7 linked regions of the Homo sapiens genome follow. The protein of the gene in region 5 purifies or fractionates together with the protein of the main gene of each other region. This does not show direct contact. Each region holds a gene or a part of one and is shown on either strand. Other genes may lie near its edges.

Region 1 (3,500 bases), on a different chromosome or scaffold from region 5:
GCACTCCTCTCGCAGCTGTACCACTCGCCAGCGCGACGGTTCGGAGGCCCCGTTCACCACCAGGCGCAGAGATTCAGGTGGGTCGGGAGGGTGCGCGCTCCTGAAAGCCATACTTAGCCCCGCTGGCAGGCGACGGCACAGCCACAGAATAGAAACCACGGGGATGATAGACTGATCCCGTCAGAGAGCGCGTTTCAGAATCATTCTGCAGCTCCACACCACAACCTCCATCAGAAAGGTGTCTGTAGGAAAGCCGTTTACTTCCGATTGGGCGTTGTCTTTCATGGGAATCAAAACAGTGACTCCAGGCTGGACACAGTGACTTATCCCTGTAATCCTAGCACCTTGGGTGGCTGAGAGAGGAAGATCGATTGAGCCCAGGAGTTCAAGACCAACCTGGGCAATATTGCGAGACCCCATCTCTACAAAAAATACAAAGCTGGCCAGGCATGGCGGTGCGCTCCTGTAGTTGCAGCAACTCAGGAAGCTGAGGTGGGAGGATTGCTTGAGCCCAGGAGGTTGAGGCTGCAGTGAGTTGTGATCATACCACTGCACTCCAGCCTGGGCCACAGGGCCAGAACCTGTCTTTTTTTGTTTTTATTAAAAAAAAAAAAAAGACAGCACCAGTCCCCACCAGTTGCTGTGAGCGTGAGCACTTAGAGCTTCAGCACGCAGTTCCTAGTAACAGCAGAACGGAGCCGCGAGCTTTAAAGATGGTTTCATGCCCAGTGTGGGGGAGCACACACCTGTAATCTCAGCTCTCAGGAGGCCGAGTTAGGAGGATTACTTGAAGCCCCGAGTTTGAGCAGCCTGGGCAACAAAGTGAGACCCCTGTTCCTACAAAAAGTAATGAAAAAAACTGGGCATGGTGATGCTGGCCTTTAGTCCCAGCTACTCAGGAGGCCATGGTGGGAGGATCGCTTGAACCCAGGAGGTGGAGGCTGCAGTGAACTATGATTGCACCACTGCACTGCAGCCTGGGTGATAGAGTGAGACCCTTTCTCTAAAAAATAAATGAATAATGAACGTCTCATATCTGTGGGAGAAAAGATGCTGCCTTAGGTATACTCGGGTGAGAGTAGATCTTCCAGCATTCTTAGACATTTGATCAGCAGCCCTAAGGCAAACCTTTTTCAAACACCTGCCTCGTGGAGTCATTTGTATTGGTGAATGTTGTATGTATGCATTCTGTTTATAAGCCCTGTCCTAGAGGGGAGGAGTTTTCCCGGATTCCTTAGTCTTTCCATCCTGAAAATGGTTCTGGCTGCCAGGATGAAGTGGGATAGAGGCGATGAGAGTCAGGGCCTTGGACTCCAGGATGTGGTGTGCTGTCGCCTCAGAAACAGCAGAGGTCTCAGTGTCAGGGCTGTTTTGTTTTTGTCAAAACCTCAAGGAGTGGCATCGAGGGCTTATCTCAGGTATGACAAGGATAGATTTCCCTTTTTTTTTTAATTTTTAATGTTTTTATTTTTTGTTGAGATGGGGTCTCACTGTGTTGCCCAGGCTGGTCTTAAACTCCTAGCCTCAAGTGATCCTCCTACCTCAGCCTCCCAACGTACTGGGATTATAGGCGTGAGCCCGGCCCCATCGTTGTTTTAACAGTGAAGCTGGGTGGGCGCTGCCCAGTGCCACACATGCTGCTGTGAGAGGTGTTATTCTCATGGCTGAGTTACCCAGCATTCTCAGCCTGGCTCAAATTCCAAAGCTGGCCTGCCTTCCTTGAGGTTTCTGGCTTGAAGACAAGGCTGGGGAAGCTTCTCTGGACGGAATGGAGCTGAATTTTAAAATCCAGCTCTAGAAATCCCATCATACAGTCGGTCCTGCTCTTGATGGGGCGGGCTATATGGGCGGTGGGGTTGGGTGAACTGCTCCTTAGCCTGGAAGGAAAACAGGGAAGGTTGGAGGAGACATGGGACTCTGGTCCCAGTAATGAGGACAAGAAAAGAAAGGGGAAACCGGAGAAGTGGACATTTCTGGTCGAGCAGGAAAAGTGAGTGGCAGGGCAACCACTAAGACAAAGTGATGGAAGGAAGTGGGGAGGGCGGGAGAGTCTGGAGGGAAAGATTCGCTCAGGAGGCTGAGAGAAGAGGAGGAAGAAAGACCCAGACTGCAGTGAGTTTGCAGTCAGTCCCTATCACGTCCAGAAAAGCCCAGAGATAAGGGATGGAAAAGAATTGGGTTGGAGGAAGAGAGGAGAAGATTTATGACTGTCAAGACCAGAGAAATCAGCAGGAGAAAAACTACCAACAAGAGTAATTCCTAAGAAGGCCGGGCGCATTGACTCACGCCTGTAATCCCAACGCTTTGGGAGGCCAAAGCAGGAGGATCACTTGAGCCCAGGAATTTGAGACCAGCCTGGACAACATAGACCCTTTCTTCTTAGTCTTTCCATCCTGAAAATGGTTTTACAAAAAATGTAAAAATTAGCCAGCATGGTGGCACACACCTGTGGTCCAGCTGCTCAGGAGGCAGGAGGATCACTTGAGCCTAAGAGTTTGAGACCATACTGGACAACATAGTGAGACCCTCTCTCAAAAATAAAGAAAATCACCGTTGGGCTAGTGAGCTGCCCCATGGCAGCTGGTGTCCTCTCGTGTCTGTCGAGAGGGTGAATCTGTTTAACAGCGCTTGAAGGCACTCGTTTACCCCGGCTGGGGCCTGCAGGGCTGCGCTTGGCTGATAGGGCCATAGCCTGAAGCCCAGTTTTATTTTGGAGCAGGTAATGCTTCTCTGCATGCATCACGCAGCTTCACAGATGCCGGCTTCACAAATGTATGCTACTCAGATATTCCCAAACTGACCCTCAGACCTTTACTTTTTTAATGTGAGAAAGTTCCAGAGGGAAACATAGCTTTAGGAACTGTTTTGTCATATACCTTAATCCTTATTACAGCATCTGTACATTTTCAGAAGGCTTTATTTTATTTTAGTTTAGTTTAGTTTTTGTTTTCTGAGGTTTTTGTTTTTTTCCTAGAGATGGGGTCTCTCTGTGTTGCCCAGGCTGGTCTCAAACTCCTGGCCTCAAGTGATCCTCCCACCTTGGCCTCTCAAAGTCCTGGGATTCCGTGCTTGAGCCACCATGCCTGGCCCAGAAAGGCTTATTTTTTATGTAAATAAAAGTATCACTGTGGAAAGAGCCCCACGTGTGTGGTCAAGTTTGGTGAGCCTGCCGTTGCTGGTGTCCCAGGGCCCTTCCCTGTCCCTTGAGTTCTCAGTCCTCAGTGGTTTGGCCCCTGACCCTCAGGGGATGTTGAGCTCTAGCCACAGAGGGTTGGTTGCCTGGTGCTTGGGAAGGAATTCTTGTGCCCTACAAGTGGCCCTGGCAAAGGCGTGCTCTAACCAGAGACCACTGGGCTGTCAACGCTTGGGGGCGGGTCATGATAAGGGGAAGGTGCAAAATTTGGAAAAAGGAGTTCAGCCCCTGCACGTACCCCACAGTACGAGGAGAGTTTCCTCCAGGGAGAACTGAGGCTGTCAGAGGCCTGCAGAGCATTTCTACC
Region 2 (3,500 bases), on a different chromosome or scaffold from region 5:
AAAAATGCAAAAAATTAGCCAGGTGTGGTGGCATGCGCCTGTAGTCCCATCTACTCGGGAGGCTGAGGCAGGAGAATCGCTTGAACTTGGGAGGCGGAGGTTGCAGTGAGCCGAGATTGCGCCACTGCACCCCAGCCTGGGCGAGAGAGCGAGATTGTCTCAAAAAAAAAAAAAAAAAAAAAGTTTGATGAATGGATGAAAGCTGGTATCAGAAGCTATTTCTTAACTTTGGGAAATCTTTAAGTCTAGTCGAAATAGTTCAGATATCATCTAGGAGTTCTTATGTTCTGATTTCAGTGCTCTTGAGACAAAAACTTGGAGTTTACACAGGTCACGAGCCAGCTGCACCAAGAAAACTCAGTACGGGCGTACTCTGCTTTTGTTTCTTTAAATTGTATTGGTCTGTTTGGTTAGCTGTGCTAAAAATAGCATCTCTTAGTGATATTTCAATTTGAAAATTATCTAAGAACAAAGCTGTTTTTACTGCACTCTGCCTGGCAGCAGAGGGTTTGGGAGACCCTGGTCTTCCTTCCCCTGGACGCTGAAGAGGAGGAGGTAGTGCCAGATCAGGAGTCCCCTCAGAGGTGTCTCATAGCACATTCTTGGATCATTCACTGGAATCAGGTAGAGGGAGTATGTGTGGCCGACTGGGATGTGTGACTCTCAAAAGCACCTGGAGATTGAGGCAGGCACGTTCCTGCAACATATGTAAGGAAAGATGGCTGAGTAGCCAGTTACAGCAACAGCCTGCTTCTCCTGGGGGGATGAGGTGGGAGCAGTGAGTTGTCCTCAAGTGAGGATATCCTTAGATGAGGCTTAAATCAACTGATGTGCTTAACTGAATTCCTACAGTGTCCCACACAGATTGTACTAGAGCACATATTTGGGTTCCTATTGTTATTTTTACCTGTGATAATAAAGTTTCTGACTGTAAAACAGAACCTGCAGATATCTTTTTAACAGAGATGTTAGTATATTCCATTTTTCATCTTGAGCCACTCACTTTCAGTCTTAACTGCTTATTCTTGGTATCCAACAGCCAATGGAACCCTGGCATTTTGCCCTATAAACACAGGAGTACCATCTGTGGTGAAAGAGAGTAACTATAGGCTATATAATACATGGAGAAACAATTCATGGTTTGTTTGCTTTGCCATTCTGCTTCCTAGTGCTTTTTTAGGAATGTATTGTGAAAGTGAGAATAGGCTGTATAGCCAGAGATTTGTATTCATGGCACAAAGCAGAAAGCTGCTACCATCTTGGTGGTAGGGCAGCATGCTCTCTGGTATTAGCAAGGGACAGGGAAAACCAAGACAAGAAAGCCAGCATCCCCTTTGAAATGCTCATTTAAGTCAAGCTCCAGATTATACTTAAAGAAAAGTCATGGCCAGACGTGGTGGGTCGTGCCTGTAATCCCAGCACTTCAGGAGGCCAAGGCAGGTGGATTGCTTGAGGCCAGGAGTTTGAGACCAGCCTGGCCAGCATGGCAAAACCCCGTCTCTACTAAAAATATAAAAATTAGCAAGGCATGGTGGCACATGCCTGTAATCCCAGCTACTCGGGAGGCTGAGGCACAAGAATCACTTGAACTTGGGAGGCAGAAGTTGCAGTGAGCAACCTCTGCCTCTGCACTCCAGCCTGGGTGACAGAGCGAGACTGTCTCAAAAAAAATAAATAAATAAAGAGGAGGAGTCATAACATCCATTAGTTTCAAGGTCCTGGGCTGTGCCAGGGAGATACATGATAGCTACTGGATATTTATTTTTTGAGATGGAGTCTCAGTGTTACACAGGCTGGAGTGCAGTGGCGTGATCTCGGCTCACTGCAACCTCTGCTTCCTGGGTTCAAGCGATTCTCCTGCCTGAGCCTCTGGAGTAGCTGGTGCTACAAGCATGTACCACCACGCCCAGCTAATTTTTTTTTTTGAGACAGAGTCTTGCTGTTGTCTGCCCGGGCTGGAGTGTGATGGCATGATATCGACTCGCTGCAACCTCCACCTCCCAGGTTCCAGCAATTCTCCTGCCTCAGCCTCCCGAGTAGCCACCACACCCGGCTAATTTTTTTGTATTTTTAGCAGAGACAGGGTTTCACTGTATTAGCCAGGATGGTCTCGATCTCCTGACCTCGTGTTCCGCCCGCCTTGGCCTCCCAGAGTGCTGGGATTACAGGTGTGAGCCACCGCACCCGGCCAATTTTTGGGTTTTTAATAGAGACGGGGTTTCACCATGTTGGCCAGGCTGGTCTCGAACTCCTGACCTCAGGTGATCCACCCACCTCAGCCTCCCAAAGTGCTGGGATTACAGGCGTGAGCCACTGTGCCCGGCCTTTTTTTTTTTTTTTTTTTTTTAAGACAGAGTCTTCCTCTGTCAACCAGGCTGGAGTGCCAGCGGCATGATCTCAGCTCACTGTAACCTCTGCCTCCTGGATTCCAGCGGTTCTCCTGCCTCGGCTTCCTGAGTACAGGCGCGCACCACCATGCCCAGCTAATTTTTATATTTTTAATAGAGATGGGGCTTCACCATGTTGGCCAGGCTGGTGTCAAACTCCCAGCCTCAGGTGATACGCCCACCTCAGCCTCCCAAAGTGCTGGGATTACAGGCATGAGCCACCATGCCTGGCCAGCTATTTAGATATTTTATCAGTTATTCATCAGTCCCACTGTATATTAAATGGCAAGAGAGAATCCCACCAATTCTAGTCTTCTAGTCCTTTTATGTTGTTCCCAAACCAGTCCTGCGTCAAATATGTGTGGAAAATGGCTGAGAATGGACAGGATAGCTAAGCAACTCGCTGTGCATTACACAGAGATACCAAATCCTACTGGACAGAAGAAATAATATAAGGACATCCTCAGATGAGGCTTAAATCAGCCAATGTGCTTAATTGAACTCCCACAATCTACTTGGCACTAGAGGGAGGACAGATTCAAAATAAGTAGACATAGTCTTTGCACATAGGGAATACACAGCTTAACGTGGGAAGCAGTAAATACACAGACTTATAAAAGAAGAAAAACTCGACAAGGTAGTAAGTGCCACATTGAGTGGTTAAGGTCATTCAAAGTAAGGCCTTGATGTGGCATGCCAGGAAATAATAGGTGTAACACTGGGATCAGCTTTTGAACCAGGACTTCAGCATGACAGCCGAGCAAAGAAGCAAATCAAAGGACAGTGTACCTGTGTTCTGGGGCAAGGCATATTGGCTAGTTATATCTTTTTCAGCCACCACTATACTCACAGTTGGTAAGCATTTAATCAGCAATAGTTTCAGTCATAAAGGACAGCAAGATAAATGTGTGGCATAAATTTAATTCAGAATCTGGGCCAAAGCCTGATACCAAACCTTTAAAGCAAAGTGTCATCTGGAGCTGAAGGAAAGGCTGCCTGAGCAAGAGGCAGAATAAAGGCTAGAAGACTAGGAAGACTTGGGAAAGGTTTAAATTTCATGAGGTGTTAGTAGTATGACCAAAAGTCACTACTACAAATTGCCAAGGTTGGTGA
Region 3 (3,500 bases), on a different chromosome or scaffold from region 5:
CAGTAAGTTCACTCTTAAGGTATACATTATATATGTACATAATACAATGCCAAATTTACTGAGCACCTATTATGTGCCAAGTGCTATGCTAGGGCCTGGAGCTATAGAAGCAGTCTTTGATACCATGAGTGAGGGAAAAAAGAATTTCCACGTGGTTTGAAAAATGTTATTAAGAGATAAGCGTAGGTTTGATACACAGAGGAAGGATCGTCAAACACGTGTGGGAAGGAGACCAGAGTAGGCTTCTGGGTAATGAGGATATTTTAACTGAAATCTGAAGGATTATGAGTTAGGCAGAAGAGAGGAAATGGTGTTCCAGACATGGAAAGTCAAGTGCCACGACAAGGAAATACGAGAATATGTCAAGTTTCAGAAAAAGCAAAGTGGCCTAACATGGCTGACTGCAAAGAATGCGCAGAAATGAAAGATGTGGATTGAGGCCTATATAGTTAGAATCCTTATATGCCAAACTAAAGAATTTTAATGATATTTGAAAGCAATAGCAGCTACTGTGAAAGATACTCAGCACAAGAGGGACAGGATCATTTTACTGCCTTAGAGATCCTTGGGGGAGCGGCTAGGTGAAGGGGGTAGAACCAAGGAAAGATGACTGGCTGTAGAGTATCTGAGAAGAGGGTAGAAGACTACAGGTAGGAAGACTAATTGCTCTGCTATGATTCATACAAAAAATGAAAAGGATCCAGCCTATAACAAATAGTGGTAGAAGCAGAGATAGGGCAGAAAAGAGTAATATTTAGAAGGTAGAATCAACTGGACTTGGTGAATAATTATAGGAGGTAAAAACTGTGATTTCCAGGGTTCTTATTTGTAGAACACTAAAAACAGAAGAGGGAATACATAAGAATAATTTTAAAAAGGGAAGGGTGATTAGTTCATTATTGGTTATGCTGAGTTTGTGGTATTTGCTGTATATTTAAATGGAGCAACATAGGCACATAGTGCTCAGGAAAATGATCTGTGCTTGACATATAAAATTAGGAACATTACTATTTTGGTAACCATTGAAACCACAGAACACATAACTAAAGGAAAAAGGTTTAGAATATAAGTCCCAGAGTCCCCAACACTTAAAGGTACAAAATAAATAACATAGGAAAATAATACAAGGTAGCAAAAAAAAATCAGGTAACGATGTAACCAAAATTAAAGAGGACAGAATTTCAGGAAGAAGGAAGGAGGCATGTCAAATGCTAAGGAGAATTTACTTCAATTAGAGTAACAAATACATAACTAATATTTTGCATGTTTTACTTATTAATTTTTCTACAAATCAGATGTGTCTTTATATTCTACACACCTCTGTTTCAGCTTGAGTTCTTTGACAGCGATGCTGAGCAATCAGTCTATCAGCCTGTGCAAGGGCTAGAGCTTTTGTTTCCAAAAGATCTTGTAGCCTGCTTTCTTTGGACTACAAGAAAACATATCATTAATTTTCATTTTAGGAATACATCTATTAAAGCTTATTACACATTGTTAAAATAAGCTTATACTCACAGCTAATGTGGATAGTTTCATTTCATATACATCCATTATGTCAGATATTCTCACATCACAAATCTGATCCTTTACCTACATTTTAAGAGTAAAAAAACTTAAAATTTTAATAAAATATTTTGACACAATGACAAAATAAATGCCTACTTCAAAACTAAATCATTAAAACTTAATGATGAGTAACAAAATAAAAACAAATGCTACATCAGGTAAGTCACAAATATTTCTTTTTTTTTTTTGAGATGGGTCTCACTGTCACCCAGGTTGGAGTGAAGTGGTATGATCTTGGCTCACTGCAACCTCTGCCTCCTGGGTTCAAGTGATTCTCCTGCCTCAGCCTTCAGAGTAGCTGAGACAACAGGCATGAGCCAACACGTCCAGCTAATTTTTTGTATTTTTAATAGAGACGGGGTTTCGCCATATTGCCCAAGCTGGTCTTGAACTCCTCAGCTCTGGCAATCTACCCTCCTTGGCCTCCCAAAATGCTGGGATTACAGGCGTAAGCCACCGCACCCGGCAAAATGTTGAAATTTTGACTGATTTTTCTTATTTCCAAATTTTCCAGAATATTGTTATTTCTTATATTAAGGTTTCAATAGTGAAATCTGTACCTGACAGTGTTTAGATACACGTTATAATTGGGACTGACATATAGCTAATATGTACCAGGTTATAATTGCTATTTTTTCACTCACCACCATTCCAGACTGAAGTTTCTCTATTAATTCTTCAATATTCAATCCAGGAACACCATCTTTCAAATGAGGAGTTAAACACTTTATTGATGTTGGAAAACTGTGATTTGATGATTGCCAGGGCATTTTTCTGGGTATATGTTCTGTTTCCTGTTGTCTATAGGCATTGTTTGCTGCTATACTTTCTCCAAGTCTGAATGGGAGTCAAAGAAAGGAAAAAAAAATTATACGAAAATAGAAGAAAAGGCAGACTTAGTGCAGAATTAGGGAATTTTTAAGAATGGGTCCTTTTTTTGAATAGAAGTCTTCAAATAATCTTGGAGACCATGATGAAATGAAGTCTTGGGAAATATTCTGAATTTTCCAGAGCACCCACTTTTCTGTTTCTAACCTTTTATAATGACAGCTTCACCTCTGGTTTGGAGGCATTGTAAGACTAGTTTATGAGTGTGGATTATCTGTAATAAGTACAAAGTTATTGGTACTGGTCAGAATAATGTTCTTATCATGGGTGATATCACCTGGCCTTTACGTCCTTAGTCCTTTTCCTTTCTCACTCAGTACATACTTTTCACCAACCTGACTTCCATTCTAACCCTTTAAAATCCTCTCTTTCTCCTACCTCAGGCCTTCATATGAGCTGTTCCTTTATCTGGAACACGCTTTCTACCACAAAACAAAATATTTTTTTCACTTATCTCTTAACTAAAGTGCAAACTGCAAGATGGCAGGCACTCAGCCTAATTTATTATAGGCTGGGCATGGTGGCTCACACCTGTAACCGCAGCACTTTGGGAGGATCACTTGAGTCCAAGAGTTCGAGACAAGCCTGGGCAACCTGGTGAGACCCCTCTATAAAAAAATAAATTAATTAAGCAGTTGTGGTGGCACAAGCCTGTGGTCCCCGCTACTCAGGGGGTTGAGTTGGGAATATCACTTGAGCCCCAGAGGTCGAAGCTGCAGTGAGTCATGATCACACCACTGCACCCCAGTCTGGGTGATAGAGTGAGACCCTGTCTCGAAAACAAACAAGTAAATACACACACACAAAAACCCTACCTACCAATGCATCCATAATATACATTCAGTTTATTAAACGCCCAAGATAATGTCAAATAAGGGCATTAAATAGTAAGCATAAAATGGACATCTGAGATAATGCCCAAAGAGAAAATTATTTACAACACAAATAAGACAGGGAATGCCAAGACACAGTCAAAATGGTGGGAAGGCCTCACACACAGAGGCAGAGGATAAGACTTCCATGTTCAGTGAGGCTGCAGATTCCCC
Region 4 (3,500 bases), on a different chromosome or scaffold from region 5:
GGTGTTTCTTTTCCGGAAGACGGTTAGAAACCGGAAGAGTCACATTGCTCTCAGGCTGAAAACCTCTGTCCCTCATTTGCTATGGGTGCTTCTGTTAAGACCTGGGTGGGGCCGACCCTGCAGCTGCCTGGCCAGAAGTCCAGGTCACAGAGCATGGCATCTGCTGGTGCTTCGTGCGGGTCCCCAGCGTATTTGCTTGTCAAGTCAGAGCTCCTAATTATTACCTCTGTTGTCCTGTCTCAGCCACCGCCACCATGTGCTCCATGACCAGAATGTGGACAAGAGAACCTGCATCCCCATGAACCATCTCTGGCCCAATCAGGCCCCCTATACTGTGTGCAACAGCTCACTGTCTGAGTACGGCGTGCTGGGTGAGTGCCTGGAGCCACACCACCAGGGCCTGTCACCCACCCACCCCCGCTGGGCCTACTGGCTGGTGTCCTGGACATGGTTTTCTCCTTCCTTTGTCCCTTGTAGGCTTTGAGCTGGGCTTCGCCATGGCCAGTCCTAATGCCCTGGTCCTCTGGGAAGCCCAATTTGGTGACTTCCACAACACGGCCCAGTGTATCATCGACCAGTTCATCTGCCCGGGACAAGCCAAGTGGGTGCGGCAGAATGGCATCGTGTTGCTGCTGCCCCATGGCATGGAGGGCATGGTGAGCCTCTGGCCCTTCCCTGCCAGACCTAGGACTTGGGAAGGGCCTGTGTAGGACCCTGACCCCAAAGACTGGCACGAGAGCCAGTGGCTCACACCAGCCTCCTAAGGACTCTGCTGGTGCTTCCCATCCATCTCAGATGGGATGTCACTTCAGAAAGCCAGAGTAGCCCATCTGGATGTGGCTAGCATGCCCCGTCCCTGCTGGTGCAGACTCCCTAGATGCACAGGCGTCCAAGTGTGGAAATGATGAGCCAAGTGCTTTGCTGGTGGGAGGGGGAAGGAACTGAACCCTGCCATCAAGAAAAAAGATAACCAGAAATGAGCTAGTTGGTTGAGGAGGAACAGCAGATGCGGCAAATGTCAGTACGCAAGAGCTCTTAAACTGTAACTTGCGTGTGTGGTTCCAGGGTCCAGAACATTCCTCCGCCCGCCCAGAGCGGTTCTTGCAGATGTGCAACGATGACCCAGATGTCCTGCCAGTGAGTAATACAGGCCCTGTCAGCCCAGCCATTCTCGGGGTGTCTGGTGGGAAACCTGGGGAAGAGCAATCTATCTGGTCATCCTGAAGTGGCAGACCGTGCCTCTGTCCCTTTCTCCATCCTGGGGAGCTCACGTGAGTGGACAGGTGTGGCCCCATGCTTCTGGGCGCCCTGGGATGAGAGACTTCCTCAGAGCACAGAGGAAGGTGCAGGGACTGCCTCCATTGGCTTCCTGCTGTTGCTGCAAGCACAGAAACGCCATGTGAGCTCCTCAGCAAGGGCTCCTGCGGGATGCTTCCAGACCCTGATTCAGGTCTGGAAGCCCTGAGGAGGAGAGAACTTTGGGGCGATTCCAGTGAAACTTTAAGAACTCAAAGAACCAGCCTGGGCAACATGGTGAGACCCCGTCTCTACAAAAATTTTAAAAAGTAGCTGGGCGTGATGGTGCACGCCTGCAGTCCCAGCTACTTGGGAGGCTGAGGTGGGAGGATTGCTTGAGCTTGGGAGGTCAAGGCTGCAGTGAGCCAAGATCGTGCCACTGCACTCCAACCTGGGTGACAGAGCAATACCCTGTCTTAAAAAAAAAAAAAAAAAGAACTGTGCTGGGTGTGGTGGCTCAAGCCTGAAATCCCAGCACTTTGGGAGGCCCAGGCAGGCGGATCATGAGGTCAGGAGTTTGAGACCAGCCTGGCCAATATGGTGAAACCCTGTCTTTACTAAAAATACAAAAACTAGCTGGGCATGGTGGCGCCCACCTGTAATCCCAGCTAGTCTGAGGCTGAGGCAGGAGAATTGCTTAAACCCGGGAAGCAGAGGTTGCAGTGAGCCAAGATTGTGCCGCTGCACTCCAGCCTGGGCAGCTCCGTCTCACAAAAAAAGAACTGGCCAGGCGCAGTGGCTCACGCCTGTAAGCTCAACACTTTGGAGGCCCAGGCAGGTGGATCACGAGGCCAGGAGTTTGAGACCACCCTGGCCAATATAGTGAAACCCCGTCTCTACTAAAAATACAAAAATTATTCAGGCGTGGTGGCGGGCACCTGTAGTCCCAACTACTCAGGAGGCTGAGGCAGAGAATCGCTTGAACCCGGGAGGTGGAGGTTGCAGTGAGCCAAGATTGCGCCACTGCACTCCAGCCTAGGCGACAGAGGGAGACTCCTGTCTCAAAAAAAAAAAAAAAAAAAAAAAACTCAAAGAAAATGATTAGGTGTCAGTGTCTAAGGAAAATTGGTTTTAGGTAGAACTTGTGTCTCTTAAAGTGGTATTTGTTTCATGCTGGGCAATAGCTTTCAGAGAAATAGTATGGATTGAGTGGGACTGAGGCTCTCCTCCAGGGTATGAGGCTGGCCGAAGGAGCTTGCTGGACTCACTTGTTAGTGTCAGCTTATGTCTCCTGGGGAGTCAGTGTGTTAGGCCATTCTTGTGTTGCTATAAAGAAAAACCTGAGACTGGGTAATTTATAAAGAAAAGTTTAATTGGCTCACAGTTCTGTAGGCTGTACAGGAAGCATGATGCTGGCATCTGCTCAGCTTCTGGGGAGGCCTCAGGAAGCTTACAATCATGACAGAAGATGAAGTGGGAGAGCAGGCATGTCACATGGCCAGAGCAGGAGTAAGAGAGTGGGGGAGAGGGGCCACACACTTTCAACAACCAGATCTCGTGTGAACTCAGAGTGAGAGCTCACTCATCACCAAGGGGATGGCCCAAGCTCTAATCCTAACACCTCCCACCAGGCCCCACCTCCAGCAGTGGGAGATTACAATTCAACATGAGATTTGGGCAGGGACAAATATCCAAACTAGATCACCTGAGGGCCCCCACATGCCCCAGAAGACTCAGTGCTGTGTCCTGGCCTCTGGCCATTTCCTTCCCTGCTGCAGGACCTTAAAGAAGCCAACTTCGACATCAATCAGCTATATGACTGCAATTGGGTTGTTGTCAACTGCTCCACTCCTGGCAACTTCTTCCACGTGCTACGACGCCAGATCCTGCTGCCATTCCGGAAGCCGGTCAGTGGCAGGGCCTCCCTTGCTCAAACGAGGCCTGGCCCTGCCCTGTTGGTGCAGGGAAGGGCTCCTCAGAGAGCCTCTTGCTTGGGGTTAGCTAGGTGGGCACCTGCAGGGGTAGTGTGGACAGGACATGGTGTCAGGGAGCCTCGCCCTTCCTCCTCACTGCTGCCATGAGGGAACTGCGTGTTCTGTGTGTCCTCTTCCCCGACTGGGCCCCTGCATACTGCTGAGCACCACATGCGGAGCAATCACATAGGCTGCAGGCCCCAGCCCGGTGGGGAGGACGGATGTTTGAACAGGTGGTCATAGGGGGTGTGCTGAGCTCTGGAAGAGAGGTGAGCCCTGGCAGAGGCCAAG
Region 5 (3,500 bases):
GGGTTTTAACATCTGTGTCCTGCCACTTTGCTAGCCTAAATATGATTTTTAATGTATCTCAGCTTCAGTTTTCTCACCTGTTAAAAAAAAAACAATAACTTACAGCATTGTTGTAAGCTTAATAACCTGTATATATATATATTTTTAATTATCACTAGGATGGCAATATGTCTTAGTTTGTCTAGGATAATCCCACTTTAAACCTGCGGTTCAGGCATAATTATTAATAGTACCTTCTTTCATTCAAAAAGTCTCTTGGTTTAGGTGATAAATTACGTGATCATCCCATCATAGTGCCATGCGTAGAATTGTCATGTAAATGGCACTTTTACTCATTATTATTATTAATAGCTTGGCATTAATATGCTTAGTGGACCAAGTACAATCGGGCAATAAATATTTAATGAATGCCCACTATGTTTAAAGTGCTGTTCAGCTGATCTGCAAAGCTATGGCTGTAAAAACACCGAAGGGAATTTTAAGTATAATTAAAAGGAGATTGGAGAGTTAAGAAATAGTTGATGACAATGTGCTTCTTTATGCTTTTCTAGGCTTACCTTACAAATTTGAAGTACAGCAGATGTTAGAAGAACCTCAGTGGGGATTAGTATTTGAAAAGACAAGATGGATAATAGAAAAATACAGGCTCTCCCATAGGTATGTACTGTGGTTTGAGATGGTTGCACATCTGCAGTGTTGCTCATTAAATTATGTTTCAGAGAAAACCCAAGTTAAATATAAAATTGTGATGTATGGCATCCGTGATAGTTTATTATGAAACTGATTAGTTTATAGTATTCGTTTCACCAGTTTGTTTTCATATTTCTTCCTACAGCAGCGTCCCCATGGATAAAATCTTTCGCCGGGATTCTGACCTGACTTGTTTGCAGAAAGTAAGCTGTCTTCATTTTAATTGGTTCCATTGTTCACAGATTCTGAAGCTATTCATCTCAATGTGTTTTCCCATGATGCCTAATACTTTGTGGATAATTTTCTGTATATTTCTTTTATTACTTTTTCCTTTGGAAAATTAATTTCTAGGAGATAATTAGTAACGTTTTTTGTTGCCCAAGCTTGCACATAGAAAAAATTCTATTTTAGAATAAATTTGTCAGTGTTGGCTGATTTTAGCAGATTATTATTATACACAATGGAGAACATTTTTCTTATTTTATTAAATTTGAAAGTGCCATGTTTCCATTTTAGCCTTAACAATTGGTCATTTTTAAGAATGATGGTATAAATCTAACAATTAAATTTAAATAGTCATTTTATTTAACTTTCTAATAGGAAATAAGAGTTTTGAATTCTGTCAGTTCACGTCTAGGTTTTGCTTCTGTAATGATTGAAGGCTAGTAGATCTGCAACATTTGTCTTTTTAAATAGCAATTGGGGATAGAAAATTTAAACATTAAGTTTCTTTTTAATATGTTTTACTCCTTTCTGTTATATCCAGTTTTTTGTGTGTTGTTGAAAAAGTATGTGCACATTTCCAAGGAAATAGACTCCAGCTAGCATCCTCATTTTGAAATGCAGAATCCTATGTTTTTATGTACCTAGATTTTTGTGTGTGTGTATACTCAGGATTATTTTGCTTTGTAAGTGTAACTACAAATGGAGAAAAGTCGCAAATACGTCCGAAGTAGAAAGCATCACATAAACAATCTCAGGTTTGTCTCCTTATGTAAAATCATAAAAGTACTAAGCTGAGTGTTCCTCAGCAGCAATTTCCTACATTCCAGCTCTGTGACTATTAAACACAAGTTAATCTTCAACCATTTTTAAGGAGAGTGTTTCTCATTTGAGCATTAGGAAATGTGAGGTCTGGAAAGGGACGAAATAGTGATAGTAATGCAAACCCTCATACTTTTTCTGTATTTAAATATAAAACTTTTCTTTTCAACTAGCTTTTGGAGTGTATGAGGAAGACTCTGAGCAAAGTGACCAATTGCTTTATGGCTGAAGAATTCTTGACTGAAATAGAAAATTTGTTCCTTTCCAATTATAAAAGCAACCAAGAGAATGGAGTAACCGAAGAGAACTGTACAAAGGAATTGTTAATGTGATTATTTTAAAGTTAAGACATTTTAATCTTGACACAGTAGATCTTACTTTCAAAGTTATAAACTTGAAGTGATTGTAGTTAACATTGGCACAGCTTTGGTATTTTTTCTCTATTTCACAAAATCCAAACTTTGCCACATAAATCATGTGAAAAGGAAGAGATACAAATTTGTTTTCATATAGTGATTATCAGAGTGTTCTGCAAACCAGGGTCCACCACGGTGTTCTAGTCCTTTACTGAGCAATGCTGTAGGCTGTGAAACTAAGCAACCTGGTCGGCTTTACTGTTGTGTTCAGCTTGGGATTTGGACTATGTCTCTAAGTCATTTCTTCCCTGAACTAGTCATTTATGTTCCATTGTGGTATCTCCTATTTCATTTAAAAGCACTTCCATTCTTTCCATATATTCTGCTGAGATTTGTTTATGGCTATAAATGAGATATGGATGGGTGGTCACTGAGATAATTAATATGGTTTAGAACTACTGATTAATAAATCTAACAGGAGACCAGGAGAGGCATGACAAGAAAATCTTAAAAACAGGAAAAACCCAAAGGAGAGAACTAAATTACCAGTTTCTAATCATAGATACTATCTTCCATTTCATTGTATAGCAGTAGTATCATAAGATATGCCATTTTCTCAGCTATCTGAAAATTTTTAACCAATTTTACACACATAAAATAATTAGCTTCAATTGTGAGTCCACTTACATTAGTAGGTGTGATAAAACCTCATTTAACTGGAACATAGGTAATCATAACTCAAACTTTTTTTCTACTGCCTACTACTAGGAGAAAGAGGCAAATGATAATAAAGCTGGAATAAATCAGAGATTTAATTTTTAAAACAAGCCTTTCAGGACATGTTACATATTCAGCCCAGTTTCATATGCTTTCTGAATCTATAATGGAGGTCAGTGAACTTTTTTAATGTAAAGGGCCAGTTTGTAAATAATTTTGGCTTTTCAGGCCACATATGATGTCTATGAGACATTCTTCTTTGTGTGTGTGTGTGTGTGTGTGTGTGTGTGTGTGTGTTTTACAGCCCTTTAAAATGATAAAAACCATTGTTAACTCACAGGCCTCATAAAACATAGGCTGTTGGCTATTATTCTCCAACCCTTGATCTAGAGAATTTTAAACATTAGAATTTTGTTTTACATTTGTTAAGCTTTACGTCATCTTCAAATGACACCAAAACTCAGAATTATGATCTGCATTTAAGCCAATTTTAAAATAAAATAAGCAGTCAATGCTGCCTCATTTATTGAAATTCAGTAGATTTTAGTTTATTTCTTAGTAGTCAGAGAATTGATTTATAGCTATTCACCAAACATTCTTACTAACGTTTCCTTATATCTAAATCAGATTGATTCTATATTTTGCTTTGTTTGTAATCAATAGCCAATGAAGAATAAGGAGTATTGGAAGAAG
Region 6 (3,500 bases), on a different chromosome or scaffold from region 5:
GCAAAAACCGCCAGGCACGGTGGCTCAAATGCCTGTAATCTCAGCACTTTGGGAGGCCGAGGCTGGCAGATCACCTGGGGTTGGGGGTTTGAGACCAGCCTGACCAACATGGAGAAACCACATCTCTACTAAAAATACAAAATTAGCCAGGTGTGGTGGCGCATACCTGTAGTCCCAGCTACCCTGGAGGCTGAGGCAGAAGAGTCTCTTGAACCTGGGAGGCGGAGGTCGCAGTGAGCTGAGATTGCGCCATGGCACTCCAGCCTGGGCAACAAGAGCGAAACTCCGCCTCAAAAAAAAAAAAAGAAAAAAAATGCAGAAACCTGTCTCAATGTTTAACTGGGCATTTTTCAAACTAGGGGACAAAAACTAGAACTTGCCACTTTTATTTAAAGTGATGCTCTTATTTTAGACCAATCTGACCTTCGTTGGCTGCGTGGGCATGCTGGATCCTCCGAGAATCGAGGTGGCCTCCTCCGTGAAGCTGTGCCGGCAAGCAGGCATCCGGGTCATCATGATCACTGGGGACAACAAGGGCACTGCTGTGGCCATCTGTCGCCGCATCGGCATCTTCGGGCAGGATGAGGACGTGACGTCAAAAGCTTTCACAGGCCGGGAGTTTGATGAACTCAACCCCTCCGCCCAGCGAGACGCCTGCCTGAACGCCCGCTGTTTTGCTCGAGTTGAACCCTCCCACAAGTCTAAAATCGTAGAATTTCTTCAGTCTTTTGATGAGATTACAGCTATGGTGAGCATGTTTGAACATGTACAGGTGACTCAGGCTACACAAGCACATAGTAGCCTCTAATTTTGACCACTGAATTTTTTTGTCATAGCTCCCTAATTTGGAATTTGTCATGATTTGGGTCTTTTCTCTAGAATTCGGTGAATCAGTGGTTAGCATGTTGTGTGCTACTTGCAGGGAAGATCCTAGAGTCGTTTAAAACCCAGAAGGGCCTTCCAGATCAGTCCCAGAGGAACAATCTGGTGATCTAGTCTCTTTTTTAAATGAGACGTGTTTTTATTGTAAGTTTTCTGAAAATTGAGGATGTAATCAGTCAGTTGTTTGGATCACCCTGCTTTTAAGTTCTTTAAGAGCTGGCTATTGATGAAGCATTTCCAGTATTCTTCCCCTCACCTGATTTTCACCCAGATACATTATGTTAAATTTACTTTCTTCTCTTTTAAAAAAAAATCTTAGTTTTGAAACATACTATAAGTGTACTCTCCTCTCCCCCAGAGGTAACTGAAGTTGGAATTTAGCAAAAATATTAAAAACATGGGAGTGCTGTTTTTGTGTCTGTAGACAGTATTATTTTTGCATGCTTTTGAAGGCATATTTTTTGGCCGAGTGCAGTGGCTCATGCCTGTAACCCCAACACTTGGGAGGCCGAGGCAGGTGAATCACTTGGGGTCAGGAGTTCAAGACCAGCCTGGCCAACATGGTGAAACCCCGTCTGTACTAAAAATACAAAAAATTGCTGGGTGTGGTGGTGGGCGCCTGTAATCCCAGCTACTCGGGAGATTGAGGCAGGAGAATCGCTTGAACCCAGGAGGCGTGCAGTGAGCCGAGACTGCGCCACTGCACTACAGCCTGGGCGACAGAGCGGGACTCCATCTCAGAAAAATAAAAATTTGCATATTTTTGCAATCTGCATCTTTCTACTTGAAATTTATCCATGTGGATACAAGTGCTTCCTCTTGACTGCCACATAGGTTGTGTTTTTGTTTTTAGTAAGATAATACAGATAAATTTGAAGTCCCCTTTGTCCCACTTCGGTAAACTTATTTGGTAATTTTACATTTCCTAGGTAAAATGTGTTTTGTGACACCAACTTATGAAACAAAAATTCTAAAACTCTTTGCCAAGAGACCTACGGCTCTATTCATTTTCCTCCTGCTTCCCATTCAGTGGGCTTTTGCCTAGGGGTATGAATGTGGCATGCCAGTTGGCTGACCCAACCATTGCTTTCCCTTTCAGACTGGCGATGGCGTGAACGATGCTCCTGCTCTGAAGAAAGCCGAGATTGGCATTGCTATGGGCTCTGGCACTGCGGTGGCTAAAACCGCCTCTGAGATGGTCCTGGCGGATGACAACTTCTCCACCATTGTGGCTGCCGTTGAGGAGGGGCGGGCAATCTACAACAACATGAAACAGTTCATCCGCTACCTCATCTCGTCCAACGTCGGGGAAGTTGTCTGGTAGGTCTCTGTGACAGCATCACTTACTGTACGCCTTTATCTAAATGGGTCATGGAGCCCAGTTCTCGCAGTTTGCTCTCCAGATTGCAGCAGCTTTGGTCTTTGTGCCTGAGTTGGAAGAGGGGAGTGGGCAAGACAGAAATGCCTTATGGAAGCAGTGGTGCTTTGGCCCTCGGGAGGGTTGTCTGCAGCTGCCCCAATGTGCAAAGAATCCTCTTTAACGTGAGACTGAGCTAACATTAACCAGGTAGTCACATGAAATTCTTGCCCTCCAAAAGTTGGCTTTATCTCAGTCAGCTTAATAATTTTTTTATTTTTATTTATTTTTTTGAGACAGTCTCGCTGTCGCCCAGGCTTCGGGCAGTGGCACGATCTCAGCTCACTGTCCCCTCCACCTCCTGGGTTCAAGCCTCCCGAACAGCTGGGATTACAGGCATGCGCCACCACTCCCTGCCATTTTTTTGTGTTTTAGTAGAAATGAGGTTTCACCATGTTGCCCAGGCTGGTCTCTTAACTGCTGAGCTCAGCCAGTCTGCCCACCTTGGCTTCCCAAAGTGCTGGGATTACAGGCATAAGCCACCGCACCTGGCCTCAGTCATCTGAATTTAAGTAATAAACTAAGTAAAATTGAGCTTTAATTCAAAATTGGGTATAAGTATTTTACAGATTACCTGAAGTTGTTGTCATTTATTTTTCTGGAGGAGGGCGGGTTGATGATGCTCTTTAAATAGTGGCCAGAAGTCATTTGGGCTCTCTTTGTCTTCTTTTCTTGATTGGAAACAGTATTTTCCTGACAGCAGCCCTTGGATTTCCCGAGGCTTTGATTCCTGTTCAGCTGCTCTGGGTCAATCTGGTGACAGATGGCCTGCCTGCCACTGCACTGGGGTTCAACCCTCCTGATCTGGACATCATGAATAAACCTCCCCGGAACCCAAAGGAACCATTGATCAGCGGGTGGCTCTTTTTCCGTTACTTGGCTATTGGCTGTGAGTACAATTTTTTTATATTACTGATTTTTAAACAAAATGTTTGTGAGCTGAAATTTTGTAAATTCATCCCTTAAAAGCGTGTTTTTTCTTCTATCCCCGTATAGGGTAGCAAAAGACAGAGATGCCCTCTTACAGTTCGATGAACTATACATCCAATTTACCAGAGTCCTTTCACAGTTAGTTCCAGTTTTAGCATCCTGCCCTTACTTGGGCTTTTCTGAATGAGCAATTAAACATCAGGGTTTTCAGATTGAGCCCTCTGTGCAAAGGGATAAGAATGATTCACGCTAGGTTCTGCCTTCCAAGAGT
Region 7 (3,334 bases), on a different chromosome or scaffold from region 5:
ATGTTTATATCTGCTGCAACACTGAGTTCATGGCTTTTCACACATAATTGCTCAACAGAGCAGGTGCCATGGAAAGTCAATTCAATGAGTAAAATTACCTCAAAATAGTCTGTTAATTCACTCACCTTTGAAGTAGACAGATTATTCTGCATTGATACTTATCTCTTACTCTTAAAATTCGCTATGTATTAATAAATATTTTATTGAATATTAAGGAATGATCACTATTTTAATAAGATGTTCTTTACCATATATTTCTATATGTACATGATAATTAGAAGTATCAAATTATATTGTGGAATGTAAAAGCTTTTCTTCTGAAGCCAAGCATTTGTTTTATTGTCATTTCAGTGGCAAATATGGACTTCATATTCAAAATGATGTTCTATATTATTTTTCCTTACAAGCTTTTTGAAAAACAATTTAATAATTCCATGATTGTTGTAGCACCACTGAATTGATTCTGAAAGCTTACTTTTTAAATAAAAATTGACCTTTATCAAGCATTCCTTGAGGGCCCATGATTGATTAACTTCTTGGCAGGTTATTAAGACTTATTCTTTCACACTGTATTAATGAAGCTTTATATTGGCATGGAGCTCTAACCACTGTGTCCTTTCTGCAAAGGTATATCTATGTTGCTGACATATTGGCTCATGAAATTCATGTTTTGGAAAAACACACTAATATGAATTTAACTCAGTTGAAGGTAAAATATTTATTTTTACATATAGACAGTAATCTATTATGCTTTGCAATGACATAGTTTTTCTATAAGAGTACCACACGTAGAACAAAATATGGATGCCAGTGTAGCTATTCTGGGTTTTTAAATACTCCCTACAACTAGAGAAAGCTCCTGTTTCCAGCGATCTCAAGAACTGACCATGATTACATGCAGCAGCAGGTTGAGAGTGATATTCATCAGATTTAGGGCCCATTCCATGAAGTATTGATGGCAGTGGAAGAATTCCAATAAGAATTTTCACAATTGAAAATACTAATAGATGAATTCTCAAATGAAGGTTTATGCACAGTGTCAGTTCTTTCAATAATACATGAAGGTAGAAATTGGGTTCCACACCATTATTATTTTCTTCCTACTCAACAACACATATTTTAGGTTGATTAAGAATTTCCTATCTTGCTTTGATTGAGTTCCTTGAGCTAACTGATCATTGTGCATCTTTTAAAGGAAAAGGAGTTCAGTTTTTAAGATAGATTTTTACAGAGACCGATTATCACCCTAACTTTCTTAATTTCAGGGAAGAAGAAAAGTGGCTCCAAACCAGTTTTTAATACATTCCTTTTAAGCAATATTGGTGTTAGAAGGTGGAAGCAGGGCGATGTGTAATTTCCTCACATGCATAGAGGCAGGAAGGTTACCTCTAAATTATTTAATCAAGTTTCTCATGTCATTTAGATTTTGACAATTTCTCATTTGGAAGGTACTTGAGCTGGATACACTGGTGGATAATTTATCTATTGATCCTTCCTCGGGGGACATCTGGGTAGGCTGTCATCCTAATGGCCAGAAGCTCTTCGTGTATGACCCGAACAATCCTCCCTCGTCAGAGGTTTTTATATTTTCAGTTTTTTAAACTTAATTATTCAAGTCCTTTTGAACTAATAATACAATAAATTGTCACAGGGATGATTTGTTTAGTTATTTTAAAGCAATAATATAATAAGCTTATGTCGTGGTTTTGTAATTGCGTTAAGCCAATAATTGGCAGAATGTTACATTGTTCAAATACTTTAAGAAAGGTAATCTTTTGATGTATTAAATTATGGTGGAAACTAGTCAAAAGGCATTTTTATAAAGACATGTGCCCTTCTTGGGTGGTATACTGGCAATTTTTAAAATATCTGATTTATTGTCAGCTCACCACATGATGTGATATTTGTTCATGTTGAAGTAGTGTGAAAGTAGGCACATTAGTATGAAAGTATTTCTATTAAAGCTGAATTGCTATAATAACACTAAATCCTGTGTTGGCATGGAATAACTAGATGGTTTTAAGAAAGTACTTTCTTTGAAGATTGGAGAAAGTACTTTAATTTAAACATTAAAAAGATTGGTAACTGCTATTTTCAACAGCATGTCCCCTTAATCAGTGTGTCATTGTGGAAAACAGGGCTTATTGATGATTGAGTGACATGCATGTACGGTGGTCTTATATTCATACTTTGTATCCCCTGAATAGGTTCTCCGCATCCAGAACATTCTATCTGAGAAGCCTACAGTGACTACAGTTTATGCCAACAATGGGTCTGTTCTCCAAGGAAGTTCTGTAGCCTCAGTGTATGATGGGAAGCTGCTCATAGGCACTTTATACCACAGAGCCTTGTATTGTGAACTCTAAATTGTACTTTTGGCATGAAAGTGCGATAACTTAACAATTAATTTTCTATGAATTGCTAATTCTGAGGGAATTTAACCAGCAACATTGACCCAGAAATGTATGGCATGTGTAGTTAATTTTATTCCAGTAAGGAACGGCCCTTTTAGTTCTTAGAGCACTTTTAACAAAAAAGGAAAATGAACAGGTTCTTTAAAATGCCAAGCAAGGGACAGAAAAGAAAGCTGCTTTCGAATAAAGTGAATACATTTTGCACAAAGTAAGCCTCACCTTTGCCTTCCAACTGCCAGAACATGGATTCCACTGAAATAGAGTGAATTATATTTCCTTAAAATGTGAGTGACCTCACTTCTGGCACTGTGACTACTATGGCTGTTTAGAACTACTGATAACGTATTTTGATGTTTTGTACTTACATCTTTGTTTACCATTAAAAAGTTGGAGTTATATTAAAGACTAACTAAAATCCCAGTTTTGTCTGTGTTTAATTCTGAAGGCATATGGCTAGGAGAAATGGGAAAGCAGCTGCTTCCTTATGGAGTTTGGATAGGCAAGCATGGCCATATTAATTTCTCTTGTGGAAAGCTGAAAGTGAATGGACTCTTAATTTGAAACAACAACAACAAAAATCAATGAAATATTGCAACTCAAATTCCCAGTTCCTAAGGAGGTTTCCATCAGCTCTCTTCCTTAATGGGAGTCCACTTTAGAGACAAAGAGGAAATAAGGGTTGGGACAGGAAGGTCTTGCCACCTCCTCATTGAACAGAACTGTGAACTAAAGCCAGGAGAATGAAGTCAGTCGTCCGTGACCACATGGTTAAGCAGCAGCAATGCTAGGATCAGGGCCGCGTGCCCAGCTCACAGAGGGAGAGTTTTTCTGCTCACTGTACCTCCTATAAAATCATCATAAGCCCTAGAGAGAGACTTTCATGTGTTTCTTTCCATTGTAATTTATCAAACCACTTTACT

The links.
Region 1: the proteins of MYSM1 (region 5) and ELAVL1 purify together in Homo sapiens (affinity purification with mass spectrometry, with the first as the bait; one large-scale study listed by BioGRID). This does not show direct contact.
Region 2: the proteins of MYSM1 (region 5) and ARF3 purify together in Homo sapiens (affinity purification with mass spectrometry, with the first as the bait; one large-scale study listed by BioGRID). This does not show direct contact.
Region 3: the proteins of MYSM1 (region 5) and CIP2A purify together in Homo sapiens (affinity purification with mass spectrometry, with the first as the bait; one large-scale study listed by BioGRID). This does not show direct contact.
Region 4: the proteins of MYSM1 (region 5) and OGDH purify together in Homo sapiens (affinity purification with mass spectrometry, with the first as the bait; one large-scale study listed by BioGRID). This does not show direct contact.
Region 6: the proteins of MYSM1 (region 5) and ATP2A2 purify together in Homo sapiens (affinity purification with mass spectrometry, with the first as the bait; one large-scale study listed by BioGRID). This does not show direct contact.
Region 7: the proteins of MYSM1 (region 5) and PON2 purify together in Homo sapiens (affinity purification with mass spectrometry, with the first as the bait; one large-scale study listed by BioGRID). This does not show direct contact.

Annotation. Positions count from the first base shown.
Region 1 is NC_000019.10:7,964,142-7,967,641, reverse strand, and holds part of ELAVL1 (ELAV-like protein 1), read left to right. Parts: coding exon 1-77; intron 78-3,500. UniProt on the Homo sapiens protein: RNA-binding protein that binds to the 3'-UTR region of mRNAs and increases their stability.
Region 2 is NC_000012.12:48,943,988-48,947,487, reverse strand, and holds part of ARF3 (ADP-ribosylation factor 3), read left to right. Parts: intron 1-3,500.
Region 3 is NC_000003.12:108,558,439-108,561,938, forward strand, and holds part of CIP2A (protein CIP2A), read right to left. Parts: intron 2,404-3,500; coding exon 2,211-2,403; intron 1,591-2,210; coding exon 1,516-1,590; intron 1,430-1,515; coding exon 1,319-1,429; intron 1-1,318.
Region 4 is NC_000007.14:44,697,127-44,700,626, forward strand, and holds part of OGDH (2-oxoglutarate dehydrogenase complex component E1 isoform 1 precursor), read left to right. Parts: intron 1-243; coding exon 244-371; intron 372-477; coding exon 478-656; intron 657-1,065; coding exon 1,066-1,137; intron 1,138-3,014; coding exon 3,015-3,143; intron 3,144-3,500. UniProt on the Homo sapiens protein: 2-oxoglutarate dehydrogenase (E1o) component of the 2-oxoglutarate dehydrogenase complex (OGDHC). Participates in the first step, rate limiting for the overall conversion of 2-oxoglutarate to succinyl-CoA and CO(2) catalyzed by the whole OGDHC.
Region 5 is NC_000001.11:58,658,563-58,662,062, reverse strand, and holds part of MYSM1 (deubiquitinase MYSM1), read left to right. Parts: intron 1-551; coding exon 552-657; intron 658-835; coding exon 836-893; intron 894-1,907; coding exon 1,908-2,066; 3' UTR 2,067-3,500. UniProt on the Homo sapiens protein: Metalloprotease with deubiquitinase activity that plays important regulator roles in hematopoietic stem cell function, blood cell production and immune response.
Region 6 is NC_000012.12:110,340,247-110,343,746, forward strand, and holds part of ATP2A2 (sarcoplasmic/endoplasmic reticulum calcium ATPase 2), read left to right. Parts: intron 1-412; coding exon 413-748; intron 749-1,981; coding exon 1,982-2,202; intron 2,203-2,985; coding exon 2,986-3,188; intron 3,189-3,500.
Region 7 is NC_000007.14:95,404,362-95,407,695, reverse strand, and holds the end of PON2 (serum paraoxonase/arylesterase 2), read left to right. Parts: intron 1-627; coding exon 628-709; intron 710-1,448; coding exon 1,449-1,577; intron 1,578-2,207; coding exon 2,208-2,366; 3' UTR 2,367-2,834; downstream 2,835-3,334. UniProt on the Homo sapiens protein: Capable of hydrolyzing lactones and a number of aromatic carboxylic acid esters. Has antioxidant activity. Is not associated with high density lipoprotein.